4 linked regions of the Homo sapiens genome follow. Each later gene encodes a partner of the first gene's protein in a complex. Each region holds a gene or a part of one and is shown on either strand. Other genes may lie near its edges. The genes, in order: ECSIT, TMEM186, NDUFAF1 and ACAD9.

Evidence for each region.
Region 2: ECSIT (region 1) and TMEM186 share a complex: the UniProt entries of both Homo sapiens proteins name them as parts of the mitochondrial complex.
Region 3: ECSIT (region 1) and NDUFAF1 share a complex: the UniProt entries of both Homo sapiens proteins name them as parts of the mitochondrial complex.
Region 4: the proteins of ECSIT (region 1) and ACAD9 are in contact, whole or in part, in a cryo-EM structure (PDB 8PHE), measured with the Homo sapiens proteins. Residues at the interface, in NP_057665.2 of Homo sapiens: Pro321, Glu322, Glu323, Trp324, Asn325, Leu326, Tyr327, Tyr328, Pro329, Met330, Leu332, Asp333, Leu334; in NP_054768.2 of Homo sapiens: Leu180, Thr181, Asp188, Ala189, Ala190, Ser191, Ile192, Lys228, Lys239, Asp240, Lys241, Ile242, Phe293, Ala296, Met297, Leu300, Ile431, Met434, Tyr435, Leu438, Thr439, Leu441, Gln442, Gly445, Thr449, Leu516, Gly520, Lys521, Ile523, Met524.

What each region holds. Positions count from the first base shown.
Region 1 is NC_000019.10:11,525,532-11,533,845, forward strand, and holds the start of ECSIT (evolutionarily conserved signaling intermediate in Toll pathway, mitochondrial isoform 1 precursor), read right to left. Parts: upstream 3,604-8,314; 5' UTR 3,531-3,603; intron 3,335-3,530; exon of another isoform or gene 3,214-3,334; intron 1-3,213.
Region 2 is NC_000016.10:8,794,154-8,802,727, forward strand, and holds TMEM186 (transmembrane protein 186), read right to left. Parts: upstream 3,487-8,574; 5' UTR 3,462-3,486; coding exon 3,459-3,461; intron 2,438-3,458; coding exon 1,799-2,437; 3' UTR 1,027-1,798; downstream 1-1,026. Other genes in the region: PMM2 (phosphomannomutase 2), read left to right, coding at 3,730-3,795, 7,646-7,757. UniProt on the Homo sapiens protein: As part of the MCIA complex, required for efficient assembly of the mitochondrial complex I.
Region 3 is NC_000015.10:41,392,012-41,399,908, forward strand, and holds part of NDUFAF1 (complex I intermediate-associated protein 30, mitochondrial precursor), read right to left. Parts: intron 5,130-7,897; 5' UTR 5,049-5,129; coding exon 4,476-5,048; intron 3,034-4,475; coding exon 2,848-3,033; intron 2,348-2,847; exon of another isoform or gene 2,094-2,347; intron 1-2,093. UniProt on the Homo sapiens protein: As part of the MCIA complex, involved in the assembly of the mitochondrial complex I.
Region 4 is NC_000003.12:128,910,001-128,913,892, reverse strand, and holds the end of ACAD9 (complex I assembly factor ACAD9, mitochondrial), read right to left. Parts: exon of another isoform or gene 3,873-3,892; coding exon 3,744-3,872; exon of another isoform or gene 3,630-3,743; coding exon of another isoform or gene 3,560-3,629; intron 3,153-3,559; coding exon 3,080-3,152; intron 1,387-3,079; coding exon 1,286-1,386; 3' UTR 779-1,285; downstream 1-778. UniProt on the Homo sapiens protein: As part of the MCIA complex, primarily participates in the assembly of the mitochondrial complex I and therefore plays a role in oxidative phosphorylation.

The sequences.
Region 1 (8,314 bases):
AAAACAAAAAAACTACAGCTACTTAAAGTGTGTTCTAGGGACTGGCAGTGTCAGCAACATTTGGAAGTTTATTAGAATAGCAAAATTTGGCCGGGCATGGTGACTCACGTGTGTAATCCCAGCACGTTGGGAGGTCCAGGCCAGCTGATCACCTGAGGTCGGGAGTTCGAGACCAGCCTGACCAACATGGAGAAACCCTGTCTCTACTAACAAAAAAAAAAAAAAAAAAATACAAAATTAGCCGGGTGTGGTGTATGCTTGTAATTCCAGCTACTTGGGAGGCTGAGGCAGGAGAATTGCTTGAACCTGGGAGGCAGAGCTTGTAGTGAGCCAAGAGCACACCATTGCACTCCAGCCTGGGCAACAAGAGCGAAACTCCATCTCAAAAAAAAAGCAAAATCTCGGCCCTATCCCAGACCTACTGAACTGGAATCTGCATTTTTTTTTTTCCCAGGCGGAGTCTTGCTCTGTCGCCCAGGCTGGAGTGCAGTGGTGCAATCTTGGCTCACTGCAACCTCCGTATCCTGGGTTCAAGCAATTATCCTGCCTCAGCCTCCCGAGTAGCTGGGATTACAGGCACATGCCACCATGCCTGGCTAATTTTTGCGTTCTTAGTACAGACAGGGTTTCACCATCTTGTCCAGACTGGTCTTGAACTCCTGACCTTGTGATCCACCTGCCTTGGCCTCCCAAAGTGCTGGGATTACAGGCATGAGCCACTGCGCCAGGCCCAAATCTGCATTTTAGCGAGTCCCTGGTATCTCCTGTGAGCATTAAAGTTTGAGAAGTGGTGATCTGTGTGCTGATGGCTCCCCAATGTTCACCTCAATCCCTGGGCCCCAGCCTTTATACCTAACTGCCACTTTGGCATATACCCAGCCATCTCAAACATAATTTGCTCCAAACTGATATCCTTGCTTAAACTTGATCCTCTCCATCCTATCCAATCGCACCACTACTACTGGCCATTCAGGCTACAAACCTAGGAGACATTTCTGAGTCCACTATGTCCCTCACTCTCCTATTCAATCCATCAACTAGTCTAGGTGACTACTTCCAAATCCATCCCAAATGCATCTCTTTCTATCTGAAGCCACCACCTCAATCTATGACTTGGATACCTATCAAGCCTCCCACTTTTGCCCTTCCTGCCTCCAGTCAGTTCTCCCCACTATGGCCAGAGGGAGCTTTTTTTTTTTTTTTTTGGAGACAGAGTCTCACTCTGTTCCCCAGGCTGGAGTGCAATGGCGCATCTCGGCTCACTGCAACCTCCGCCTCCCCAGTTCAAGTTGGTTCTCATGCCTCAGCCTCCCGAGTAGCTGGGACTACAGGTGTGTGCCACCACACCCAGCTAATTTTTTGTATTTTAGTAGAGATGGGGTTTCATCATGTTGCTCAGGGTGGTCTCGAACTCCTGAGTTCAAGCAATCCACCCATCTTGGCCTCCCAAAGTGCTAGGATTACAGGTGTGAGCCACCACACCCAGCCAGAGGGAGCTTTTAAACTAAAATTAGGCCAGGCGCTGTGGCTCACGCCTGTAATCCCAGCACTTTGGGAGGCTGAAGCAGGTGGATCACAAGGTCAGTTCAAGACCAGCCTGGCCGAGATGGTGAAAGCCCGTCTGTACTAAAAATACAAAAATTAGCCAGGTGTGGTGGCAGGCACCTGTAATCCCAGCTATTCGGGAGCCTGAGGCAGGAGAATCACTTGAACCTGGGAGGTGGAGGTTGCAATGAGCCAAGATTGTGCCACTGCACCCCAGTCTGGGCGACAGAGCGAGATTCCATCGCTAAATAAATAAATAAATCAACTAAAATTAGTGATTTCTGCCTAAAATCGCTAACGGCATATCACACTTAAAATCAGAGACTGGGCACACTGGCTCATGCCTGTAATCCCAACACTTTGGGAGACCAAGGTAGGAGGATCACTTGAGCCCAGGGATTCAAGACCAGCCTGGGCAACATAGAGAGACCCCATCTCTACAAAAAAATTAAGAATTATCCAGGCATGGTGGTGAATGCCTGTCATCTCAGGTACTCAGGAGACTGAGGCTGGAGGATCCTTTAAGGTCAGTAGTTAGAGGTTGCAGTGAACCATGACTGCACTTGTGAATAGCCACTGCACTCTAGCCTGGGCAACATACTGAGATCCTGTCTCTAAAAATAAATAAATAGCCAGGGAGCAGTGGCTCATGCCTATAATCCTAGTGCTTTGGAAGTCCAAGTGGGGAGGATCGCTTGAGCCCAGGAGTTCAAGACCAGCCTGGACAACATAGCAGGACACGATCTTTACAAAAATTATTTTAAAAAATTAGCTGGACCTGGTGGTGTGCACCTGTAGTTCCAGCTACTGGGAAAGCTGAGGCAGGAGAATCACTTGAGCCATGGAGTTTGAGGCTGCAGTGAGCTATGGAGTGCACTGCACCACTGCACTCCAGGCTTGACGAACAAGTGAGATCCTGTCTCTAAAAAATAAAAATAAATAAATAAAATCAGATAGGGTCTACCCCTCTAAACTCAACTCCTACCACTGGCAGCTTCAGCTACACTGTTTCTGAAAGAAACTAAGTTTATCCCATCTCAGAACCTTTGTACTTGCTTTTCTCTCTGTCTAGAGCTTTCTTCCTCCAGATCTGCCCACAGCTGTCTCTGGTCATTTCAATGAAAGGTCTTCTTTGACCATCTCCCATTCCCCACATTCTAAAAGCCCTCATCACCCTATTAATTTTTGTTTCGGAGACAGGGTCCTGCTCTGTTGCCCAGGCTGGGGTGCAGTGGCACAATCACGGCTCACTACAGCCTCAACCTCCTGGGCTCAAGCAATCCTCCCACCTCAGCTTCCCGAGTAGCTAGGACTACAGGCGTGCACCACTACGCCCAGATAATTTTTTGTAGAGAACAGGGTCTTGCTATGTTGCCAAGGCTGGTCTCGAAACTCCTGGGCTCAAGCGAAATTCCCGACACCATTAACGCATTTTTAGTAACTTATCAGTATCTGAAATCACCTGTTTCGTTTATTTCTAATTTGTTCAAAGTCTGGTTCCCCCAGGAGATGAGAGATTTTTATCTATCTTCCTCATTGCTGTGTCTCCAGCACCAAGGACAGTGCCTGGTATATGACAGATGCCTAACGAGTAACAACTGAACGGAAACAAGCCTCAATTTCAAAAAAACACCTATAAATCTGAACCCCGAGGTATGGTGTACGTACAACAGCTTTGAAACCGGCTGCCAGGATTCTGGGTCTCTTGGGGGAAAAAGGCAGACGCGGATTCCAAATCCTGCCCGGTTGCCGACTTGCGGCGTGACCTCTCGCGAGGTCATCTGCAAAATGGGAGACTGGGGGCGTGAGGCGGCTGGCACAAGACAGGCGGCCTTTCCCAGCGCGTCCCCGCCCCCACTACGAAAGGTCATGGCGCCCTGGCCCTGCAGCTGGGTCCCTCCAGGGCTGCCCTCTCGCGCTGCCGGGTCCTGAAGGGCCCGCCTGCAGCCCAGCAGTTCGCGTTCGCCTACCCGCGCGCGACCTACCTACTCACGCGGCCAGCCGCGGACTCCAGGCCAGCTCTGTCTTGTTGCTGGGCGCTGCCATATTGGCCCAGAGAGCGTCCGGGTCAGGGAGCTCCAGGGAGGTAGCAAATCAAGAAAGCTGGTGTAATAGGTCCCGCCCACAACGCGAGGTGGGCCAATAGGAAGGCGGAAGGATCTGGGACCCGCCTCATAACGAGCCAGGCCCAGCCTCTAATGAGGCAAGACGCACTCCAGACCTGGGAACCTTGAAATGGCCCGGGAGGCTGGACTTGGGAGTCATAGTCTATGAATCCAGTCGCAGGCCCCAGCGGCTGAAATGAGAAAATGAATTAAAAAAAAACAAAAAGTGAAAGGGGGCCGGTACGGTGGCTCATGCCTGTAATCCCAGCACTTTGGGAGGCCAGAAGTTCGAGACCAGCCTGGGCAACATAGCGAGACCCCCTTATCTACAAAAAATTTAAAAATTAACTGGGCATGATGGCGCATGCTCATAGTCCCAGCTATTCGGGAGGCTGAAACGGGAGGATCGCTTGAGCCCTGGAGGTCGAGGCTACAGCGAGCCATGATTGCACCCCTGCACTCCAGCCTGGGCAACAGAGTGAGACCCTGTTTCTAAAAATAGTAATAATAAATAAATAGGGCAGGGCGCGGTGGCTCACGCCTGTAATCCCAACACTTTGGGAGGCCGAGGCCTGCGGATCACCTGAGGTCAGGAGTTCGAGACCAGCCTGGCCAACATGATGAAACCCCGTCTCTACTAAAAATACAAAGTTAGCAGGGCATGGTGGTGGGTGCCTGTAATCCCAGCTTCTCGGGAGGTTGAGGCAGGAGAATCGCTTGAACCCGGGAGACGGAGGTTGCAGTGAGCCAGGATAACACCACTGCACTCCAGCCTCAGCAACAGAGCGAGACTCTGTCTCAAAAAATAAATAAATAAATAAAAATTAGTGGGGCGTGGTGGCGTGCTCCTGTGATCCCAGCTACTCGGGAGGCTGAGGCACGAGAATTGCTTGAACCCAGGAGGTGGAGGTTGCAGCGAGCCGATATAGCACCACTGCACTCCAGCCTGGGCGACAGAGTGAGACTCCGTCTCAGTAAATAAATAAATAGGAAGGCCTCAGTGAGGTGTCCTTTGAGTAAAGGCCGGAGGAAGTGAGTGAGCCATCTGGATATCTGGGGAACGCTTTTGGCACTGGGAACAACAGCAAAGACTCTGTGTGGTCGGAGTGGAGTCTTTGGAGGAAATGGGATAAAACGAGGTGAGATTGAGTAATGGGGGCTCCTGGTCTCCCCCAGAAAGCACCAGATTTAGGCTGTTAATAACTAAGGTGGATAAGCACATAAAATGGGCTATTGGCAATAACAGTGTCCCCCGGGAAGGAAGGCTATCTGCCCTCATAAGCCCATTTCTGCAGTCCCTCAGCCTCTGTGGCGCAGTGAGCTGGCATGGAGACTAGGATGCAAGAACCTACCCTTAGGATGCCTCAAGGACTCTGCGCAGCCGCAGGACATCCACCTCATCAGAACTCTTGTGATTGGGCAATCTGAGAAAACCTGTAGCCAATCAGCTGCTTGGCTGGAGCACTCCTCTCTGGCAAGTTGACAGGCACGTGGGCAGCGGCTGGGAGCGCTACTGCCCTCTGCCAGGCTCCCGCAGCTACAAGCAAGCAGAGTCAGCTCTGCTTAGCTGGGGAGTGGGTAAGATGATGGGGTCGCTGACCTGGCTGTGGCCTTCAGAGTTATTGGTGTCCTTCTCTTGAGGTGGTCATGGCTTTTGTTTTCTTATTTATCCTTCCAGAACTAGTCTTTTAATATTTTATTTTATTTTATTTTATTTTATTTTTGGAGACGGAGTCTGGCTCTGTCGCCCAGGTTGCAGTGCAGTGGTGCAATCTCAGCTAATTGCAACCTCCGCTTCCCACATTCAAGCAATTCTCCTGCCTCAGCCTCCCGAGTAGCTGGGACTACAGGCGCATGCCACCATACCCGGCTAATTTTTGTATTTTTAGTAGAGATGGAGTTTCACCATGTTGCCTAGGCTGGTCTCCAACTCCTGGGCTCAAGCAGTCCTCCCGCTTCAGCCTCCCAAAGTGTCAGAATTACAGGCATTAGCCACCGTGCCCAGTCATTATTATTATTTATTTATTTATTTATTTTTTGAGACAGAGTCTTGCTCTGTCGCCCAGGCTGGAGTGCAGTGGCACGATCTCGGCTCACTGCAAACTCCGCCTCCTGGGCTCACGCCATTCTCCTGCCTCAGCCTCCCCAGTTGCTGGGACTGCAGGCGCCCGCCACCATGCCCAGCTAATTTTTTTGTATTTTTAGTAGAGACGGGGTTTCACTGTGTTCTCCAGGATGGTCTGATCTCCTGACCCCGTGATCTGCCAGCCTCGGCCTCCCAAAATGCTGGGATTACAGGCATGAGCCACCATGCCCGGCCTATTATTATTATTTTAAAATAGAGATGGGATCTTAATATGTTACCAAGGCTTGTCTCAAACTCCTGGGGTACTGCGATCCACCCATCTTGGCCTCCTAAAGTGCTGGGATTATAGGCATGTGCCACCACACCAGGCCAGTAGTCTTTTAAAAACAAGTAGGTACAGGCCGTGCGCGGTGGCTCACGCCTGTAATCCCACCACTTTGGGAAGCCGAGGCGGGTGGATCACGAGGTCAGGAGATCAAGACCATCCAGCCTAACAAGGTGAAATCCAGTCTCTACTAAAAAAAATACAAAAAATTAGCCAGGCGTGGTGGTGGGCGCCTGTAGTCCCAGCTACTCGGGAGGCTGAGGCAGGAGAATGGTGTGAACCCGGGAGGCGGAGCTTGCAGTGAGCCGAGACTGCACCACTGCACTCCAGCCTGGGCGACAGAGCAAGACTCCATCTCAAAAAAACAAACAGACAAACAACAACAAAAAAACCAAGAATGTACATATTTTATGTACTGTATGTATTAACACAGAACACCATATGTGAGGCCCTGGTGCAGAATCTTTAACATTACAGTCCCAGAAAGAACCCTATAAAAAGTAGTAGCTTCACAGTGAAAGATCCTAGCAGACACCACCTTAACCAAGGGACCAACATTTATATCACCAGCAATGAGTCATGGTGATATCATGAAGCCCTTGGTATGACACACTTAGAAGGATACATCATCACCTCTCTGGTATTCTTCCTGGTAATGCAAACACCTCAGTTTATTCAAGACAAACCAAACTCGAAGACAGTCTACAAAATAACTGACCAGCACTCTTCAAAAGTGTCAAGGTCCTGAAAGACCCAGGGACTATTATAGACTGTAGGAATGTATGGAGATATGACAATTAAATGCAATGAGGGCCAGGCACAGTGGCACTGTAGTTCTAGCTATTTAGGAGGCTGAGGCAGGAGGATCACTTGAACCCAGGAGTTCAAGTCCAGCCTGGGCATCATAGTGAGACCTCATCTCTAAGATAGATAGATAGATAGATAGATAGATAGATAGATAGACAGACAGACAGACAGACAGACAGACAGACAGAAAGAAAGAAACGCAATGGGCCGGATGCGGTGGCTCACACCTGTAATCCCAGCACTTTGGGAGGCCGAGGCAGACAGATCACAAGGTCAGGAGTTCAAGACCAGCCTGACCAACATGGTGAAACCCCCTGCCTCAGCCTCCCATGTAGCTGGGATTATAGGCTCCCACCATTACGCCCAGCTAATTTTTGTAGTTTTTGTAGAGATGGGGTTTTACCATGTTGGCCAGGGTGGTCTTGAACTCCTGACCTCAGGTGATTCACCCGCCTCAGCCTCCCAAAGTGTTGGGATTACAGGCGTGAGTCACTGCACCCAGCTGGAGTCCCCACTCTTAACCACAGCGCTACAGTGTCTTCATTTAGTTGAAACAACATGCTATATGTTTTAACTTCAACTTTGTCTATCTCCCTTGTCCCAGGTTGATGGGATTTATAGTGATTTATTATGACAAGGCCACTGCAATAAATGTTCCTGTACATATGTCATTCTTCACACCTACACTTGTACTTCTGAGGAATATTCTAAAATAGAGGATATACTTGTTCAGAAGGTAAGGACATTTGTCATTTGGGAAACTATCAACAAATTGCCCACACTCATCAACAATGTTCCCACAGCCTCCTCTGCGTTACATGTTGTCAAGCATTCTTTTATTTATTTATTTATTTATTTATTTATTTATTTATTTTTTTGAGACAGAGTCTCGCTCTGTCGCCCAGGCTGGAATGCAGTGGCACGATCTCAGCTCACTGCAAGCTCTGCCCCACAGCTTGACGCCATTCTCCTGCCTCAGCCTCCCAAGTAGCTGGGACTACAGGCGCCCGCCACCACGCCCGGCTAATTTTTTGTATTTTTAGTAGAGACAGGGTTTCACCATGTTGGCCAGGATGGTCTCGATCTCCTGACCTCGTGATCCGCCTGCCTTGGCCTCCCAAAGTGCTGGGATTACAGGCGTGAGCCACCACACCCGGCCGTCAAGCATTCTTTTCTTTTCTTATTTATTTATTTTTCACCCAAACTAAAATGCAATGGCATGGCTGGACACAGTGGCTCATGCCTGTAATCCCAGCACTTTGGGAGGCCAAGGCAAGCAGATTACCTGAGGTCAGTAGTTCGAGACCAGTCTGGCCAACATGGTGAAACCCCATCTCTACTAAAAATACAAAAATTAGCCCGGTATGGTGGTGGGCACCTGTAATCCCAGCTACTCAGGAGGCTGAGGCAGGATAATTGCTTGAACCTGGGAGGTGGAAGTTGCAG
Region 2 (8,574 bases), on another chromosome or scaffold:
ATTCCATTTATATGAAATATCCAGAACAGGTGAATCCAGAGGGACAGAAAGCAGGTTAGTGGTTGCCAAGGGCTGGAAAAAGAAGGAAATTATTGCTCAATGGGTATATTAGTTCTGTTTGGGATAATGAAAATGTTCTGGAAATAGATGGTGGTGACGGTTGTACAACATTTTTTGTTTTGTTTGTTTTTGAGATAGTCTGGCTGTCTCCCAGGCTGGAGTGCATTGGTGCAATCTCGGCTCACTGCAACCTCTGCCTCCCGGGTTCAAGCTTCTCAAGTAGCTGGGAATACAAGTGCCCACCACCATGCCCAGCTAATTTTTGTATTTTCAGTAGAGACAGGGTTTTGCCATGTTGGCCAGGCTGGTCTTGAACTCCTGACTTCAAGTGATCCACACGCCTCAGCCTCCCAAAGTGCTGGGATTACAGGCATGAGACAGTGTGCCCAGCCTGTACAACATTGTTAATATACTTAATGTCCCTGAATTGCACACTTAAAAATGATTAAAAGGATAAATTTGTTAGGTGTATCTTGGTATGGTTAAGAAAAATGGAAGGCTACACAATAAAAAAAAATATTTTTTTTTTGAGACGGAGTCTCACTCTGTCGCCCAGGCTGGAGTGCAGTGGCGTGATCTCGGCTCACTGCAAACTCCGCCTCCCAGGTTCACACCATTGTCCTGCCTCAGCCTCCCGAGTAGCTGGGACTACAGGCACCTGCCACCACGCCCAGCTAATTTTTTTGTATTTTTTAGTGGAGACACGGTTTCACCCTGTTAGCGAGGATGGCCTCGATCTCCTGACCTCGTGATCCGCCACCTTGACCTCCCAACGTGCTGGGATTACAGGTGTGAGCCACCGCCCCCAGCGATAAAACATTCTTATTGACTTTCGAGTGGCAAAATAATAAAGATCATGCCTTCCTTCCTCTTTACTGTGTTACAAATTGTATAATGAACATATATTATTAATTATGTGGGGCAATGTATATAACTGGCTTAAGTTTATAAAATAACGTACCAGCATCCGGTGCATTTGGCTTTATTACACTGCAGGGCCATCCAAAGCAAGAGCCTCTAGACCTCTGGGTGGTGAACAAATCTCAACTGGGGTTTCGTGCCTACCTGGACGACATCTGCTCGTCAATGTGTAGTTAACATCCTGACAGACCCTTCTGCCGCTGGATATGTGAGGGGCACAGCACAGGGCTCTGGAAGTCCCTGCTGACTGCTCGAAGCCTTTCTCCCTGCTAAAACCTCTGACCAAATGCTTAATAATATCTGCTGTAGGCTGTTGAGTCTGCCACACGTTTGACATTTATTGTTTATTCCCACACCCATCCCATGAAACAAGCAGGACTTTCCATTTTACAGATGTGAAAACCAAGATTCAAAGAGACTCAATAACCTGCTCCAGGACAAATGACAGAACTGAGACTTCTGACTCCAAATCTTACGCTCCCCCGCCACACCTCTTTGCCTTTCTCTTTCACACCAATGGACTCTATGGGTGACCTTGGCATAGGTTCTTCTAAGAACTGGCTCTTAACAAAAACTTCTGGCCATTATCTGACTGAATGTCACAAACAAGTGCTGTAAGAACTTGCTTAGAGCCTTTTTCCTAAACCTGTACACCAGCTCTTGCCTTGTGAATTTATTCACCACAAAACACATGTTCCCAGGGGCCCAGGCAAAGTCTCCAAGTACCCAGTCCCCTTTCTTCAGCCTTGCCCACACCCTCAGCCTTCCTGTTAATCCAGGCGACCCAGGGTTACCCAGAGGTCCAGGTCCCAGTTGTTCACTTGAGCATCTGATGTACCCCAAACACCTGTGTGAAACGCTCTCTGTCCAGGATGCGTCCATAGCGCAGGGTGACGTAGAAGGTCTGTTTCCCACTGTACCGCTGGATACGCACAAACATCTCCTGAGGCCGGTCCTTGGTTTCTGTCAGGGGAATCACATCTGCCATGGGACAGTATGTGTCCTGCCGCCAGCCCCAGAAGTTCAGATGGGCCACCCGCAGCATGGTGCCAGACTCATTCAGATACAGGATACCAACCAGTCTCCGTAAGAAATAGCTCATCCAGCACAGCATGGTCAGGGCAAAGCCCGATATCCCACTCATGAGGCACACGGTGTTGAGAGTGAGGAGGCCCTGGGAGTACAAGTAATAGCCTGGTGGCAAAGCTACCACTGTCAGGGCAGTCTGTGCCAACTTCAGTCGTGACAGGAACCCGAAGGTTCTGATGGCATCAAAACGGTAAAACATCCAGAATTTCTCAGTCTCTGCGTTTGGTAGTTTCTCCTTCGAGATGGGTGAACTGCTGCCCACCCACCTCTTAGGATCCTCCTGCCCACTGCAGCACCACAGCCCATGGAGAGGCCTTTCCCACACAGCTTTTCCCCGAAACCTACGCACAGCTCGGAGAAGGGCAGCCTGAAAGGGAGACAGTAGACCATTTCTCTCATGGAACTCAACCACATTAATCACACGGTGAACATCTGCAAAGCACCATACTCTAAGGCTTCTGCCAATCCTGCAAGGTAACCGTTATTGCCAGACGAGGGAAGGGTAAAGCCAGATGCTATCTCATGTGGGCATCACAACAGCTATCTAAGATAGTTATCACTATTTCCACTTTACCACTAGGGAAACTAAGCCCAGAGAGGGTAAGATATTTACCAAAGATCACACAGTCAGTGAGTGCAGCAGAGTCCTCCTTCCACCAGGCAATTCCAAATAAATACAGGAAAGGAGGTGCGGCCGTCATTAATTCAAAACATATCCAGGGAGGACAAACTCTGGGCTGGACAATGTATCCACAAGGGGGTGTGAACATTTCCCCAAGCAGGAAACTAAATAATCAGTGTCTTAGTGGGGAACTCGAGCAACAAATCTGTGAGATATTTATTCCAATAAACTTTCTAATTCTCTGTTTGATTCATATGCTATCTTGGGTGCTGGAGGGAACTGCTGCTTTCTCTTAGCCTAGTCTGGGGAAGGGGAAACAGCGGAGAAGGAGAAGGAGCGAGGCAGGGAGGCCCCAACACGTAGCACAAGGGTATTACTAGGTGGGTAGTGAAGCAGTAAAAGCTCTTATTCCAATTCTGGCTCCAACAGTAATTTGTGAGCAAATTACTCCACACCCCTGAGATTCGGTTTCTTCGCCTTTCAAAATGGGGACTCAGAACACAGTGAACCAGAGGATGGTTTCAGAGTCCTCAACTTAGTACCTAATGCACTGTGAGAGCTCGGCGAGTTTTAGCTACTACTACTGTGCGCATGTGACCCAAGGAGGGCAAGAGAAAGCCCGGGAAAAGCGAACTGTAACACACGCCAGAGCTTCCTCCCACGGATCCTCGGAGTCCGAAACCCGAGCGTCGGGCCTGCCCGCCCCAGCCCTGACCCCGACCCCAAAGAGCATCACCCCCTCAAGGCTCGCCACCCGCCTCCTTACCATGGCCCCACCACCTGCTGCCGGAAGTAAATCCCACCGGCCCCCGGAACCCCTAAGAGCGCATGCTCGAATGTACAAGGCGGGCGTGATCTGCGTTGCACCCTGGGAGTTGCGGTCCAGGAATCGTGGCTGCCGCTACTCCCAGGCGTTATGGGAACGGAGTCCCCTCCTCTTCCCGACGTGCCCTGCGACTCAGCGGCCGAACCCGGAAGTTCCGGGCCGAGTTCCTCGTGCCAACGTGTCTTGTAAGGTGCGGCTAGAAACTGGGGACATGGCAGCGCCTGGCCCAGCGCTCTGCCTCTTCGACGTGGATGGGACCCTCACCGCCCCGCGGCAGGTAAGTGGCGGCCGGCGGGCTGCTGGCAGCCGACGCGGAGCCCGTGCTGTTCCCAGTTGGGGCTATCGACCACCCAGGGTAGGCGCCAAGGGGTGGCTAAGGACCGCCTACGTCCTCACGGCGCTGAACCCTATTCTGGGTGCACTGGAGGAATGAGAGGGAGGCCCTAACCAGCTCTTGAAGAGCTCTGGTGCTTGGAAAGATGAGACGGGGCTGAAGAACTCTTAAGAGCAGGAAACTTGTGCTAGGTTGGAAAATGTAATCTGGACTCACCGCTAGTGCTCGGGACTGATAGACCAGGATTTCAACCCAAGATCAGGCCCCCTTATCAGCTATGTGTCGGCCCCAATCCTGTAACCAATGGGCTGTGCCGTGAGTCATGATATTAAAAACAGGTTTCCAGGTCAAACCGACCTAGTGGAGTCTCATCTTCACCTCTTGACATCTGTGTGACCTTCAGCGAGTCATTAACCTCTCTGAGCCTCAACATCTACAGCTTTAAATGGGGATGTTACCTGTTCCATATGGTGTCTGTGAGGATCAAATGAGATTGTGTAAGTTCTTGAAAGTATGTTGGACACAACACACTAGGCCTCAGTAAATAGTAGCCACCTCCACCACACCCATCTCCAGCCCCTGCAATGGACTAGGGAGATGGAGGAGCCCTAGGTTATTACAGGCTGCCCGCTGAGAGCCTCTTTGGGCCCTTGGAAACTTGCTTTCCACTTTCAGATTTTGCTGCTACAGGCACAGATAAGTTTCAGTTACGATCAGCCTTGAGGTGAGGCTCTCCTGGCCCCTTTTCAGAAATTGGCCACTGAACACTGGCCATTTCAACTTGAGACTGGACCCCAATGGTCTCACTATCCTCAGCTTCTACCCTCACCCCTCATAGTTTTCGCTTGGTGGTAACAATGGTGTGCTCCAGAAGTCCAGGTCAAATGCGTGTGACCTTAGACGTATCATTTTGCCCTTCTCAGCCACAGGTTTGATTTACCTAGTGATGACGCTCAACTCCCAAGTTCTTCAAAGGCTTTTTCTGATTCTGAAATTCAGTGATCACACACTTGGGTTTGTTAAAAGCCCATAGTGGTCTAAAACTCCGGTCCCCAATTCATTTTTTGTAAAGGGCCATATAGCAAATACTTCTCTGTCTTTGCTGACTATGTGGTCTATAGTAACCACTCAACTTTAGTGCAAAACCAGCCATAAACCCTATATAAATAAGAGTGGCTGTGTACCAATAAAATTTTATTTATTTATTACAAAAACAAACAGCTGCCCAATGTGGTCTGTGGGCCATAGTGGTCTAGGGTTTACATTGCCACCCTTTTTCATATCACTGAACCCTCTCAACCTTCCTCCATCTTTCTTCCCAGGTAGGATAGTTGTTATTACCGTTTTAAACATAAGGAAACACACTCAGTGAAGAACTAACCTCCTCAGTTTCACACAGCCAACCTGGTACAAGTCTCTGGGCCTCAGGATATTGGTTCCTGTCAAGTTTGCCATTTCCTATCTGTGCTAAGGTGGAAGCTGTTCTAGTCACTGGGTATGCCATTCAGGAAAGTGCTTCTGATTTTCTGATTTTCACAGTTCTGACTCTTTTTTTTTTTTTAAGACAGAGTCTCACTCTGTCACCAGACTGGAGTGTAGTGGCCCAATCTCAGTTCACTGCAACCTCCACCTCCCAGGTTCAAGCAATTCTCCTGCCTCAGGCAACCAAGTAGCTGGTGCTACAGGCAGGCACCACCACGCCTGGCTAATTTTTGTATTTTTAGTAGAGATGGGGTTTCACTGTGTTGGCCAGGATGGTCTCTATCTCTGGACCTCGTGATCCACCCGCCTCGGCCTCCCAAAGTGCTGGGATTACAGGCGTGAGCCACCGTGTTCTGACTTTTAAAGGCCACTCCTCCAATTCTAGATTCTGTCTAATAGGTCCAGATTCCACTGTGAGAGTAGAAAAGATTGCACTCTATTACAAACCCTTCTGTACAATTTTAATCACATTCATGTATTACTCTAAAAAAGTTTTTTAAAGAAAAATCATTGAACTCCAAGTGTTTATATACTGAGGTTGAATTAAATGGTTTTTTGTATTTTCTAAATTTCTAGTAAAAAGATATTCAGCCGGGCACGGTAGTTCATGCCTATAATCCCAGCACTTGGGGAGGCTGAGGCGGGTGGATCACTTGAGGTCAGGAGTTCGAGACCAGCCTTGCCAACATGGTGAAACCCAGTCTCTACTAAAAATACAAAAAGATTAGCCGAGCATGATGGCGGGCGCCTGTAATCCTGGCTACCTGGGAGGCTGAGACAGGAGAATCGCTTGAACCCAGGAAGTGGAGGTTGCAATGAGCCGAGACCACACCATTGCACTCCAGCCTGGGTGACAGAGCACGACTTCGTGTCAAAAAAAAAAAAAAAAAGACATTCAGTGTAAATGTACAACTGAGATTGCTCAAAGTGCTGAGTTATAAGACTTGTAAAAATACATTGTGATGTGTCTTAATGTAGGGCTATTTTTTCATCTTAGTTTATAACTTTTTTAAAATTATCACACAGTTTGGAATTTACCATAAGATTATACCACTAAGACCACTCTTTCTAGATAGGAGCTTTGCTTTTAGAAGAGACTAAAAAATCTAGTTATCTTACTCTTTTACATTTTTGTTTTGTTTTGGGTGATTGCAATAAAATCAATTCTAAGCTTCTCCTTTTTTTTTTTTTTTTGTTTTGTTTTGTTTTGTTTTGAGACGAAGTCTCGCTCTGTGACCCAGGCTGGAGTGCAGTGGCACGATCTTGGCTCACTGCAACCTCTGACTCCCGGGTTCAAGTGATTCTCCTGCCTCAGCCTCCCGAGTAGCTGGGACTACAGGCGCCCACCAGCGCGCCCGCCTAATTTTTGTATTTTTAATAGAGACAGGGTTTCGCCACGTTGGCCAGGCTGATCTCGAACTCTGACCTCAGGTGATCCACCCGCCTCGGCCTCCTAAAGTGCCGGGATTACAGGCATGAGCCTCCATGTCTGGCCCTAAGCTTCCTCTTTAATTTCATTATGTTGTTTTATTTTAAAATCAACAACTTAAATCCATAAATGGAGTATAGTGTAGCATTTAAAAGGAATGATGAGCTAGATCTGTGTTGGCATGAAAAGATCACCACAGCATAGTGCTGAAAAACCAAAGTCCCTGCACAGGACATGATTCCATTTATGTTTCAAAAATAAGACCTATTTGTATATGTGCCCATAGATGGGTATATAAATGCATAGAAAAATAGCTGGGACAGTGCACAACAGCTACTAACATATTACCTGTGTTTAAAATTTGGTAAAAATAACACTTAAGTTTATTCTGGTAAAGATGCCCCCCCAGTTACAACTAAAATATTTGAACTATGTACAGAGCTGGTAACTTAATTGGCATGTATGAAAATAAGGCTTATAGACCTGGCTTATACCTGTAATCTCAGCACTTTGGGAGGCCAAGGCTGGTGGATCTCCTGAACCCAGGAGTTCCAGACTGGCCTGGGCAACATGGCAAAACTTAGTCTCTACAAAATATAAAAAAATTAGCCAGGTGTGCTGGCACATAACTATGGTCCCAGCTACTCAGGAGGCAGAGATAGGAGGATCACCGGAGTCCAGGGAGGTCGAGGCTGCGATGAGCTATGACCATGCCACTGCACTCCAGCTTGGGTGACAAGTGAGACCCTATCTCAAAAAAAAATTTTTTCTTTAATTTTTAAATAAGAAAATAAGACTTATGTACTTGTGTTACCCTTAGAGTTTTGGTCTCCTGATTATTGTGTGGCTTATGACTGTTGTATTTTCTTTCTTGAAATTTAGAAAATTACCAAAGAAATGGATGACTTCCTACAAAAATTGAGGCAGAAGATCAAAATCGGAGTGGTAGGCGGATCGGACTTTGAGAAAGTGCAGGAGCAACTGGGAAATGATGGTAAATGATGGGTTGCTAATTACATCTGGTAAAAGATTAACTTCTTATGAGGATATTGTTGCCAAGTATCATAGGCTGCCCTAAAACCTTGTCCCCATATGGCGGGCTTTCTGCTTCCTTTTTTGGGAAACATTTTCTTGGCCTTTGCTTTTCCTCTGCTTTTAATCCAGTACATTTCTGGAGTTACTGATGGAGAACTGGGTACTCAGATGTGTGAGTAGATTCACCTAGAAAGGTCAGTGGCTGTATCTGCACATGATAATCTCTCTGCCTGGAATACTTCTTGCTTGTACCCGTTGACAGCCCTTCTAGCCCCAGTCAGACCGGTCTTCATATTGTCCCTCTGACAGCCCCCCTCACCTCCCCATCACTGAAACAGAATCTCCAGCACAGGACCCCGAAAAACCAGAGAGGCTTATTGACCCCTTCACTGGAGAGTCTGACTTGATAGGTCTGTGGAGCCTGGGAATCCTATTTCAGTGAGTACCTCTGAGAGATTCTAGTGTACAACCTTGCTAATGTAGCATTCTGTAATTATTGTAAACTATCCGATTATATGTTTTTGAAGAGCAGGAGTATGGGTTATTCATCTCCATAGCCACAGGGCCTCCTGGCCTGTAAGAAATTGTAAGTGGATGCCAGGCGCGGTGGCTCACGCTTATAATCCCAGCACTTGGGGAGGCCGAGGCGGATGGATCACCTGAGGTCAGGAGTTTGAGACCAGCCTGGCCGACATGATCAAACCCCATTTCTACTAAAACTACAAAAAATGAGCTGGGCGTGATGACGGGCACCTGTAATCCCAGCTACTCAGGAG
Region 3 (7,897 bases), on another chromosome or scaffold:
CAGGGGTCCGATATTGTAGGCCCATAGGCCATGTGCAGGAGTTTGGACTTTATTCTTTTTTTTTTTTTTTTTTTTTCTTGAGATGGAGTCTTACTCTGTCACCCAGGGTGGAGTACAGTGGCGCGATCTTGGCTCACTGCAACTTCCACTTCTCAGGTTCAAGCGATTCTCCTGCCTCAGCCTCCTGAGGAGCTGGGACTACAGGCGTGTGCCACCACCTGCTGCTAATTTTTTGTATTTTTAGTAGACACAAGATTTCACCATGTAGACCAGGCTGGTCTCAAACTCCTGACCTCAAGTGATCTGCCCATCTCAGCCTCCCAAAGTGCTGGGATTAAAAGCATGAGCCACCTAGCCCAGCCTGGACTTTATTCGAATTGTAATGGGAAACCACTGAAGGGTCCTGATATGGTTTGGCTGTCTCCCCACCCAAAATCTCATCTTGAATTGTAGTAATCCCCATGTGTCAAGGGAGGGACCAGGTGAAGTTAACTGAACCATGGGTGTGGTTTCCCCCATACTGTTCTAGTGACAGTGAGTTCTCACAAGATCTGATGGTTTTATAAGGAGATTACCCCTTCATTCGGCTCTCATTCTCTTTCCTGCCACCATGTGAAGGAGGATGTGTTTACTTCCCCTTCTGCCATGATTTTATAAGTTACCTAAGGCCTCCCCAGCCCTGCAGAACTGTGAGTCAATTAAACCTCTTTCCTTTATTAATTACCTAGTCTCAGGTATTTCTTCATAGCAGCAGCACGAGAACAGACTAATACAGCTTACATGCTTAGGAGGTACATTTACATGCTTACAAGCATGTAAATGATGTCATCTGAACTATGCTTCAGAAAGATAACTCTGGCTGCTGTGGAGCCAGGATTTTAGTGGGGCAAGAAGACAAACAGGGAAATCAATAATGAAGCTGCTGCAATAATCCAAACACCTGGACCAGGGTGGGAGTAGAAGAGATGGCTAGAAATGGTCAGCTGCTGAGTGTATTTTGGAAGCAGAGGTGACAGGACTCGCTAATAGACTGGATGTGGGGCAAAGGAGAAGAATTCAGGATGACCCTCAAGTATATGACATGAGCAAAATGGGGACTTTCTTGTTGAGTTTTTTTTTTTTTTTTTTTTTGAGACGGAGTCTTGCTCTGTTGCCCAGGCTGGAGTGCAGTGGCACGGTCTCAGCTTACTGCAACCTCCACCTCCCAAGTTCAAGCAATCCTCCTGCCTCAGCCCCCCTAGTAGCTGGGATTACAGGCACACACCACCATGCCCGGCTAATTTTTTTTTTTTTTTTTTTTTTTTTGAGACGAAGTCTCCCGCCCAGCCTGGAGTGCAGTGGCACGATCTGCAAGCTCTGCCTCCCGGGTTCACGCCATTCTCCTGCCTCAGCCTCCTGAGTAGCTGGGACTACAGGCACCTGCCACCAAGCCCGGCTAATTTTTTTTGTATTTTTTTAGTAGAGACGGGGTTTCACTGTGTTAGCCAGAATGGTCTCCATCATCTCCTGACCTCGTGATCCACCCGCCTCAGCCTCCCAAAGTGCTGGGATTACAGGCGTAAGCCACCGCGGCCGGCCTTTTTTTTTTTGAGATGGAGTCTCACTCTGTCGCCAGGCTGGAGAGCAGTGGCCCATCTCGGCTCACTGCCACCTCTGCCTCCCAGGTTCAAGCGATTCTCCTGCCTCAGCCTTCTGAGTAGCTGGGACGACGCCACCACACCCAACTAATTTTTTTATTTTTAGTAGAGACAGAGTTTCACCATGTTGGCCAGGATGGTCTCGATCTCTTGACCTCGTGATCTGCCCACCTCGGCCTCCCAAAGTGCTGGGATTACAGGCATGAGCCACCGCGCCTGGCCTCTAATTCTTGTATTTTTAGTAGAGATGGGGTTTTGCCATGTTAGCCAGGCTGGTCTCAAACTCCTGATCTCAGGTGATTTACCCACCTTGGCCTCCCAAAGTGCTGGGATTACAGACATGAGCCACCACGCCTGGCCTAGGACACTACTTTTTTTTTTTTTTTTTTTTTTTTTTGAGACAAAGTTTGGCTCTTGTTGCCCAGGCTGGAGTGCAATGACACGATCTCGGCTCACCGAAACCTCCGCCTCCTGGGTTCAAGCAATTATCCTGCCTTAGCCTCCCGAGTAGCTGGGATTACAGGCATGCGCCACCACGCCCAGCTAATTTTGTATTTTTTTTAGTAGAGACAACAGGGTTTCTCCATGTTGGTCAGGCTGGTGTCGAACTCCCAACCTCAAGTGATCCGTCCGCCTTGGCCTCCCAAAGTGCTGGGATTACAGGTGTGAGCCACCACGCAGGCCTAGGACACCAACTTTAGCAGAGTTGCCTGGAAGACATGAAATGGCAGAAACTTCTAAAAAACAAACAAACCCCATCTATTTGGACACAGAGCAGAGATGTGCCTGTGACTTAGCATGGACCTGGCCACATCCATATCAAAAATATTCACTAGTTAGTATGTTAACATTTATATTAATGAAACAAAATTCATTTATGTCTCTTAACCTTTCTTCTACCCACCCACCCCCACCTTCCAAGAAAGATTAGTAACAAAAAAGAAACTACAATGTAACAATCATCTCCAAGACTTTTTTTTTTTTTTTTTTTTTTTTTTGAGACAGAGTCTCATCTCACTCTGTTGCCCAGGCTGGAGTACAATGGCACGATCAGAGACTAGGTTTCACCATGTTGGCCAACCTGGTCTCGAACTCCTGACCTCAGGTGATCCACCCACCTCGGCCTCCCAAATTGCTGGGATTATAGGCGTGAGCCACCTCACCCAGCCAAGACCTCATTTTTATAAACAATGAAGATTTATGCTGTTACCTTGACCTCCTGCCAGTAGGGTCCCCCGCGGGTGAACATGAAGTAACTATACATCTGATTCGTCCTCTGGAAGAAATCTGTGTCCTCCTTGATATTCACCATCCAAGGCCGACCATCCCCACGTACACGGAGATACAGAGTATTGAACTGGGACCAATCGTAAGACATCTTCCTCTCAAAAGCACCCTAAGATATTGAAAGTAAAGTTCATTGTACCTCATTCTCCATTATTAGCAAAATGTGAGTCATCACCAAGTCAGCATCATCAACAGGATGCACTAACCATTTTTCTGACTTTCTGCCCCATAAGAAGGCACATAAACCCAGTGATTATTATTTTAGCACAAAATACTGACATAGTTATATGTTTCTAAGGTAATGTTCAACACACAACTGGCCCAGGACAGTGTTTACATGGGGTAGGCACTCACCTGTGTTCAATGAATGGAAATGAATGTATTTCCTTTACCTGGTCGTATGGAGCAATGACTTTTTCTTTTCTTTTCTTTTCTTTTCTTTTTTTTTTTTTGAGACGGAGTCTTGCTCTGTCACCCAGGCTGGAGTGCAGTGGTGCAATCTCAGCTCACTGCAAGCTCTGCCTCCTGGGTTCACACCATTCTCCTGCCTCAGCCTCCCGAATAGCTGGTACTATAGGCGCCCAAAACCACACCCGGCTAATTTTTTTGTATTTTTAGTAGAGACGGGGTTTCACCGTGTTAGCCAGGATGGTCTCGATCTCCTGACCTGGTGATCCGCCCACCTTGGCCACCCAAAGTGTGGGGATTACAGGCATGAGCCACTGCGCCCGGCCTTTTTTTTTTTTTTTTTTTTTTGAGACAAAGTTTCGCTCTTGTTGCCCAGACTGGAGTGCAATGGCACGATCTCAGCTCACTGCAACCTCTGCCTCCAGAGTTCAAGCAATTCTCCTGCCTCAGCCTCCCAAGTACCTGGAATTACAGGCATGCACCACCATGTCCAGCACTCTGGGAGGCCAAGGGTGGGGTGGATCACCTGAGGTCAGGAGTTCAAGACCAGCCTGGCCAACATGGTGAAACCCTGTCTCTACTAAAAATACAAAAATTAGCTGGGCGTGGTGGTGTGCACCAGTAGTCCCAGCTACTCAGGAGGCTGAGGCAGGAGAATCGCTTGAACCTGGAGGGCGGAAGTTGCAGTGAGCCGAGATCACGCCACTGCACTCTAGCCTGGGCGACAGAGCAAGACTCCGTTTCAAAAAAAAAAAAAGAAAGCCACAGGCTAACCCTACATCCACTCTACAAAACCCCTGGTCATTACAGAGGTTGTGGTCTTTTTTAGAGGAGATGAAAATCTCTCCAAAAATCTTTCAAATGTCTAACCTCTCAGGATTCCTGAAACATAACAATGCTCGTTCCTGGCCCAAAGCAATGCGCAGAAACAAGTTAACTCCTCCTCCTCAGAAACCACTTCCCCCTTGTGCTTCCACTTCACACTTGTGCCAATAGTTACTTATCCCCAGACACAGGTGAGGTGCCAAATATAACATGCCAGGTGTTTTCATTTACAGAAACAAAAGCTATCTTCTATAGTTTATGCTACAATGAAGTTCACCCCTGTTTACTAGAAAACGATGGCTCCTGGGCCTCACCTACCCTTGGAATCCTGGATATCATTGCACAGTACCCACTTCGGGTAGACTCCCCGTCCTGAGGCGCCTCAGAGCTCAGAGTTCCATATAGCAGTGCACTTTGGTTATTCTTGCCCATTTTCAAAAACACTTCACTTCTGCCTCCAATCGTCTTATCAGAAGTCACTGTCCACTTATCCAAATCTTCTTTCCCCCGGAATTGCCAGACAACCTTGGCTTGTTCCAGCAAGACCTCATGCAGAGGGTGGCCTTCCGGTCCTCTCCAATGATCCACAATTTCATCCTTCAAAAGCCTAAAATGGTATATTGCTTCATCTCTAATTGCTTTATCGAAACTAACATCAGGCTTCTCCTCAGAAGAAGTTATATCCAAAGCAACTTCTTTCTGGTGATCTCCTTGCAAATCCCCTTCAGTCTTCCTCTGTGAGGAGGCTTTGCCAGGAGAAGCCACTGGTTTCTGAAGACTACTGGAATACTCTGCAAAGCGAATACCCAAAAATGGATACAAGGCAGAAGTTGGCTTAGAGAATTTTCTGAGAAAATAAGTACCACGCAGCAATTTGTGAACCAAAGCCATGGTACAAAAAAATCAAAATGTAAGTTTCTTCCTGGGCTAGCAAGGGCCACCAAGAAGCTTCAGCAAATAGCCCAATTCTACCTATAACAGAAGAGACATTGAAGAATTATCAGCATAGCAATGAATGCATCACAATTTCAAATTCAACAGAAATCAGGTATTTTGAAGTTTGTTAACTTATTTGTTTACTATTATTATTATTATTATTTGAGACAAGGTCTTGCTCTGTGGCCCAGGCTGGGTACAGTGGCACAATCACAGCTCACTGTAGCCTCTACTTTCTGGGCTCAAATGATCCTCCCATCTCAGCCACCCAAGTAGCTGGGATTACAAGCACACACCACCATGCCCAGCTAATTTTTAAATTTTTTGTAGAAATGGATCTCCCTGGCCAGGCACGGTCCCAGCACTTTGGGAGGCTGAGGTGGGTGGATCACGAGGTCAAGAGATAGAGACTGGGCCGGGCGCGGTGGCTGACGCCTGTAATCCCAGCACTTGGGGAGGCCGAGGCGGGTGGATCACGAGGTCAGGAAATCGAGACCATCCTGGCTAACACGGTGAAACCCCGTCTCTACTAAAAATACAAAAAATTAGCCGGGTGTGGTGGCGGGCGCCTGTAGTCCCAGCTACTGGGGAGGCTGAAGCAGGAGAATAGCGTCAACCCAGGAGGCAGAGCTTGCAGTGAGCGGAGATCCCGCCACTACACTCCAGCCTGGGCGACAGAGCGAGACTCTGTCTCGGGAAAAAAAAAAAAAAAAAAATTGAGACCATCCTGGCCAACATGGTGAAACCCCGTCTCTACTAAAAATACAAAACTTAGCTGGGTGTGGTGGTGCGCACTTGTGGTCCCAGCTACTAAGGAGGCTGAGGCAAAAGAATTCCTTGAACCTGGGAGGAGGAGGCTGCAGTGAGCCAAGATCGTGCCACTGCACTCCAGCCTGGCAACAGAGCGAGACTCTGTCTCAAAAAAAAAAAAAAAAAAAAACAGAAAGAAAGAAAAAGAAATAGATCTCCCTGTGTTGCCCATGATGGTTTTGAACTCCTAGGATCCAGTGATTCTCCCCTCGGCTTCCCAAAGTGCTGGGCTGTAGGAATGATGCACTGTCCCCGGCCTTTTTTTTTTCTTTTCTTTTTATAAGAGACTGGGTCAGGCCAGGTGTGGTAGCTCACGCCTGTAATCTCAACACTTTGGGAGGCCGAGGCGGATGGATCACCTGAGGTAAGGAGTTCGAGACCAGCCTTGACAACATGGTGAAACCCCATCTCTACTAAAAATAATCCAGGCGTGGTGGCAGACGCCTGTAATCCCAGCTACTAGGGAGCCTTAAGCAGGAGAATCACTTGAACCCAGGAGGCAGGGATTGCAGTGAGCCGAGATCACGCCACTGCACTCCAGCCTGGACAAGAGCAAAATTCCATGTGAAAAAAAAAAAAAAAGAGACAGGGTCTCTTGCTCTGTCACCCAGGCTGCAGCGCCGTGGCAAGATCGATAACTCATTGTAGCCTTGAACTCCTGGGCCCTGGACTGAAATGATTCTCCCACCTCAGCCTCCAAGGTAGCTGAGACTACAGGTGCACACCACCATGCCCAGCTAATTTTTTTAAAAAATGTTGGCCGGGTGCCGTGCATCACACCTGTAATCCCAGCACTTTGGGAGTCCAAGGTGGACGGATCACTTGAGGTCAGGAGTTCAAGACCAGCCTGGCCAAAATGGTAAAACCCCATCTCTACTAAAAATACAGAAATTAGTTGGTCATGTTGGAGAGCGCCTGTAATCCCAGCTACTGGGGAGGCTGAGGCAGGAGAATCACTTGAACCCAGGAGGCGGAGGTTGCAAGTGAGCCGAGATTGCACCACTGCACTCCAGCCTGGGTGACAAAAGTGAAATTCCATCTCAAAAAAAATAAAAAAACCAAAAATTGTAGCCCGCCACAGTGGCTCACACCTGTAATCCCAGCACTCTGGGAGTCTTAGGCAGGCAAATGACTTGTCGTCAGGAGTTGGAGACCAGCCTGCCCAACATGGTAAAACCCCGTCTCCATTAAAAATACAAAAATTGGCCTGGCACGGTGGCTCATGCCTGTAATCCCAACACTTCGGGAGGCCAGGGCAGGCGGATCACCTAGGACAGGAGTTCAAGACCAGCCTAACCAACATGGTGAAACCCCTACAGAAAATACAAACAATTAGCCAGGTGTGGTGGCCCATGCCTGTAATCCCAGCTACTTGGGAGGCCTAGGCATAAGAATCGCTTGAACCCAGGAGGCAGACGTTGCAGTGAGCCGAGATCGTGCCATTGCACTCCAGCCTGGGCGACAGAGTGACTCCAACTAAAAAAAAAAAAAAATTAGCTGGGCATGGTGGTGGGCACCTGTAATCCCAGCTACTCGGGAGGCTGAGGCAGGAGAATCGCTTGAACCTGGGAGGCAGAGGCTGCAATGAGCCAAGACTGCACCATCGCACTCCAGCCTGGGCAACAAAAGTGAAACTCTGTCTCAAAAAAAAAAATACAGGCCGGGCGCGGTGGCTCACGCCTGTAATCCCAGCACTTTGGGAGGCGGAGGCGGGCGGATCACGAGGTCAGGAGATCGAGACCATCCCGGCTAAAACGGTGAAACCCCGTCTCTACTAAAAAAATACAAAAAATTAGCCGGGCGTAGTGGCGGGCGCCTGTAGTCCCAGCTACTCGGGAGGCTGAGGCAGGAGAATGGCGTGAACCCGGGAGGCGGAGCTTGCAGTGAGCCGAGATCCCGCCACTGCACTCCAGCCTGGGCGACAGAGCGAGACTCCTTCTCAAAAAAAAAAAAAAAAAAAAAAAAAATACAAAAATTAGCTGGGTGTGGTGACG
Region 4 (3,892 bases), on another chromosome or scaffold:
AAACTTCTCCTGTGCAAAGAAACTCTAAGCAGCCTTCTGTCCAGAGGTATGCATGCTTCATTTTGTGCAAAATGCTGCCCTGCTATCACTAACAGAACTTCAGGTTTCACTGAGAGGTTATTTACACGGTCACAATATTTACAAACTTTCCCCATTTTAAAAACTAGTTACCAAACCCCTGGCAGAATGCTCAGGCCAGCCCCACTCAGCCAGCTCAGCTCTCCAAGTTCCCAGTCTCCTCCTTGCCTATTTCCAGCATCACAGTAAATTGGGAATATACTTGGAGGAAAAAGAGTCGGCTGCCTTCTCTGTGCTCAAGGGAGTGTCCACAATAGGCATTTTAGAGCTCCAGACCACCCAAGGACCACATCAAAGCTTAAAGTTCACCACAGTGAGCACGCTGGGACCTGGTGTAATCTTTCAAGTGCCAGCAGAAGGGAGGCTGGAGAAATGCAAAGGCCTGCTGGCCTGGAGATACCATTCATCCTCTCCTCAAGAGTAGAAGCCAGTTCTTGTAAAGAAACTAAAGTCCCTAGGTGGGAACATCATCAGCTGAGACAGCCTCCCCATCATCTCCTGAGAAGGATAAAAACTAAGGGCTCATAACCCCAAGGGATTGTGGCCTGCACTGTGTGTCTGCTCCTTAGCATTCTGGGCCCTCCTTGCAGGGTGAGGACAAAGGGGACCCGAGGCCATCACCAAAGGGTGGTTCTCAGGGTCCTGCTGTCACCCATTAAAGGCTGGTTCTAAGGAACAGTGTGACAAGTACAGCAAAGGCTAACAGTACACAGATTGTGACATTTTATATTCTTTGTTAAATGGTTCCTGGTACATGTTTTAAGTGCCTCTGCTTCTAGTTTAAATGAATGACCCAGACAGAGCTTTCAAGCTGTTTCTTAGAGAATGTGTGGTTGAGCAGAAATGGCTATCCACACCTGACACAGGTCCCCACCCACCTCACACCCTGGAGGCAGCAGCATAAGCCCCAGTTTCCACTATGGTGTCTCCTCAATGACCAGAATACCCGCCAGTTCCAGGGGTCAGCAATTCCATTCTCTCTCTCCGGCTCAGTTCAGAAGCTGTGATGGTCCTGTTAGAGAGCACTGCCTGCAGGTCAAAACCTGGAAGAGGCTCTCCCAGGCCAGGCGACAACCCTTCAGGTGCAGACGGGGAACAAAAGGCTTAACCTGTGATAATCCCAACACCTTCTGAAAAAAGAGTAACAGTCATCCAGCAACGGGCCATGGGTAGGGGCGGGCGGTAGCAGGGGACACTGTCCCCTGCCTCAGCATGTCCTGTCCAGAGGGTGGGCACAGATATAGGCTCGCTTCTCAAGGATCTGCTGGGACACTTTCTTAATCTGCTCATCTAGGTTTTCTGGAGCATCTGGGAAGGAAAAGGAGAGATGGTGGGTGATCTTTCTGCACCGTGATAAGACAAACATGGCTGAAGTGGGGGCATTTTTCCACAAAGTCAGCCCACCCACCATGAAGCAGCCCTAAGGGTGAACCCCTCCTCCAGACCCCCAGCAAGTGATTCAGGGCTGCAGGGAGAGAAAGGGGTACAGCTTCATTCTCAGTTACAAAGGACTCATCCTGCTCATCTCTAACCCCCAGATCTCATGGGGTGGAGCCGGCACTTGCTCCGTAAACAGCCCATCTGTGATTCCAGCCCACTGGAGGAGAAACCATTTCAGCACCCTCCACAGCACATAACCTGTCAGCACTGGGGGGGTGTCTGGGCTACCCCCAGGGCTAGGACCTGCAAAAAATCATATGCCACTCTCAGCAAGTGCCACAGTGCTGGCGCCTACACCCATCACTTGGCAACACGACTGGGCTTTGTGGGGACACTGATCCAGAACCTCAGGTCAACAGGACTGTGAGGGTCAGAGGTAGACTGAGCTGGGCATTCCTAGATATGGTCGAGTGGCTATAGAAGAGGAAGAGCACTGCAGACAGAGCGGGGAGCACGAGCAAAGCCCTCTGTTCTCTAGGCCAAGGCCTGAGACCTCTGCAGGGCACTGCAGGGTCATTTTGGATGGAGTACAGTGGGTAAAGGGGCAGGTAAAATGCTGTCTCCAGAATCAGGTACAACCAGATGCTCCTCCCTTCGTGAGCCTTCCCCGGGCAGCTTCAAGAATACAGCCAGGGCTGGGCACAGTGGCTCATGCCTGTAATCCCAGCACTTTGGGAGGCCAAGGTGGGCGGATCACCTGAGGTCAGGGGTTGGAGACCAGCTTGGCCAACATGGTGAAACCCTGTTTGTTTCTACTAAAAATACAAATATTAGCTGGGCATGGTGGTGCGTGCCTATAATCCCAACTACTCAGGAGGCTGAGGCACAGGAGTTGCTTGAACCCAGGAGGTGGAGGTTGCAGTGAGCCAAGATCATGCCACTGCACTCCAGCCAGCCTGGGTGACAAAGTGAGACTATGTCTCCAAAAAAAAGAGAATACAGCCAGGCATGCTGGGCAGATGCCAGGGGTCCTGCGCAAAGGGCTCTGCACTTGCTCAATCTAAAATTGCCTTGGCAGGCCCGGTGCGGTGGCTCATGCCTGTAATCCCAGCATTTTTGGAGGCTGAGGCAGGCAGATCACCTGAGGTCAGGAGTTGGAGACCAGCCTGGCTAACATGGTGAAACCCTGTTTCTACTAAAAATACAAAAAATTAGCCGGGCGTGGTGGCGTGCGCCTGTAATCCCAGCTACTCGGGAGGCTGGGGCAGAAGAATCGCTTGAACCCAAGAGGTGGAGTTTGCAGGGAGCCAAGACTGCGCCATTACACTCCAGCTTGGGCAACAAGAGCGAAACTCCATCTCGAAATAAATACATACATACATACATACACACACACACATATATACATACAACTGCCTTGGTGAATGGGGCAGGTATGCACCTACAGTGCCTGGTGGGCACTGCTGCAGCTAAGCCCAGGCCTACCCAGGCCCTCGCTCAAGGCAGAGGTCTGTGAGTAGCTAGCAGGCTCTGGGAGCTTGACAGGGTCCAGAAACAGCTCACCATCAATAGGGGCCTAGAAGTGGGCCCTTCCTTCCCTCCCCCAAGACATGCCACTCACACTTGTCCAGCTGAGAGAGGCTGAAGAGATTCTGCAAGTAAGCTTCCACGCAGAAGGTGTTGGCCAAGAGAACCTGCCAGAACCGAGGACAGAAAAGATATGCCCAAATTCCTGGAATCAGACCTCTGAGCTTCAAAAACCCAGCCTATCAGCCAAACTGGGTAGCATGGCAGGGGTCACAAGGCCTGGCACAGGAGTCACCCCGTCTTGGGTTCTAATTCCAGCCCTGATCCAACAGCCTTTCCCCAACAGCAAGTGACTCAACATCTCTGACCCTGTTTCCTCTGAAAGGCAGATGTCACAATCCTGGTATCTGCAGGTGCTCTGGAAAGTGCAGGCAGAGATCCTGGTATACAGTGGGTCCTCAGAGACTGCACCCGCCTCCCTCCAGCACAGCGGGCAATGTGCAGGGTCTGTCCCTTGCTGGGGGTAGGGGCACTGGGATCAGGAACCCCTGTCACTCACCCCCTCTTCTCTCAGTCAGGAAGAAGAAAGGGAACAGCCCCATCTCCTGAGCAGCACAGACCCTCCCACGGCCACCGCATGGTGAACCTGCACAGCCTCCCCCACACCCGACCACACCCTCCTCAACAATCAACTTCATTAAAGTGCAGCAGGACAGATGGCAGCAGCCAGGCCCTGTGTGAGGCTGGGCTGGGCTCACCTCGTGGTCGTGGTTGCGGAGCCCAATGCGGATGGAGCGGCTGGCCCGCGACAGCACGGCCGTCATGCCATACAGGTTGATGAGGATGTTGGCCACCCGCTTCAGTACCAGCTGCTCCTCCATGATGGTCTGGGATCACAGAGGCTCCA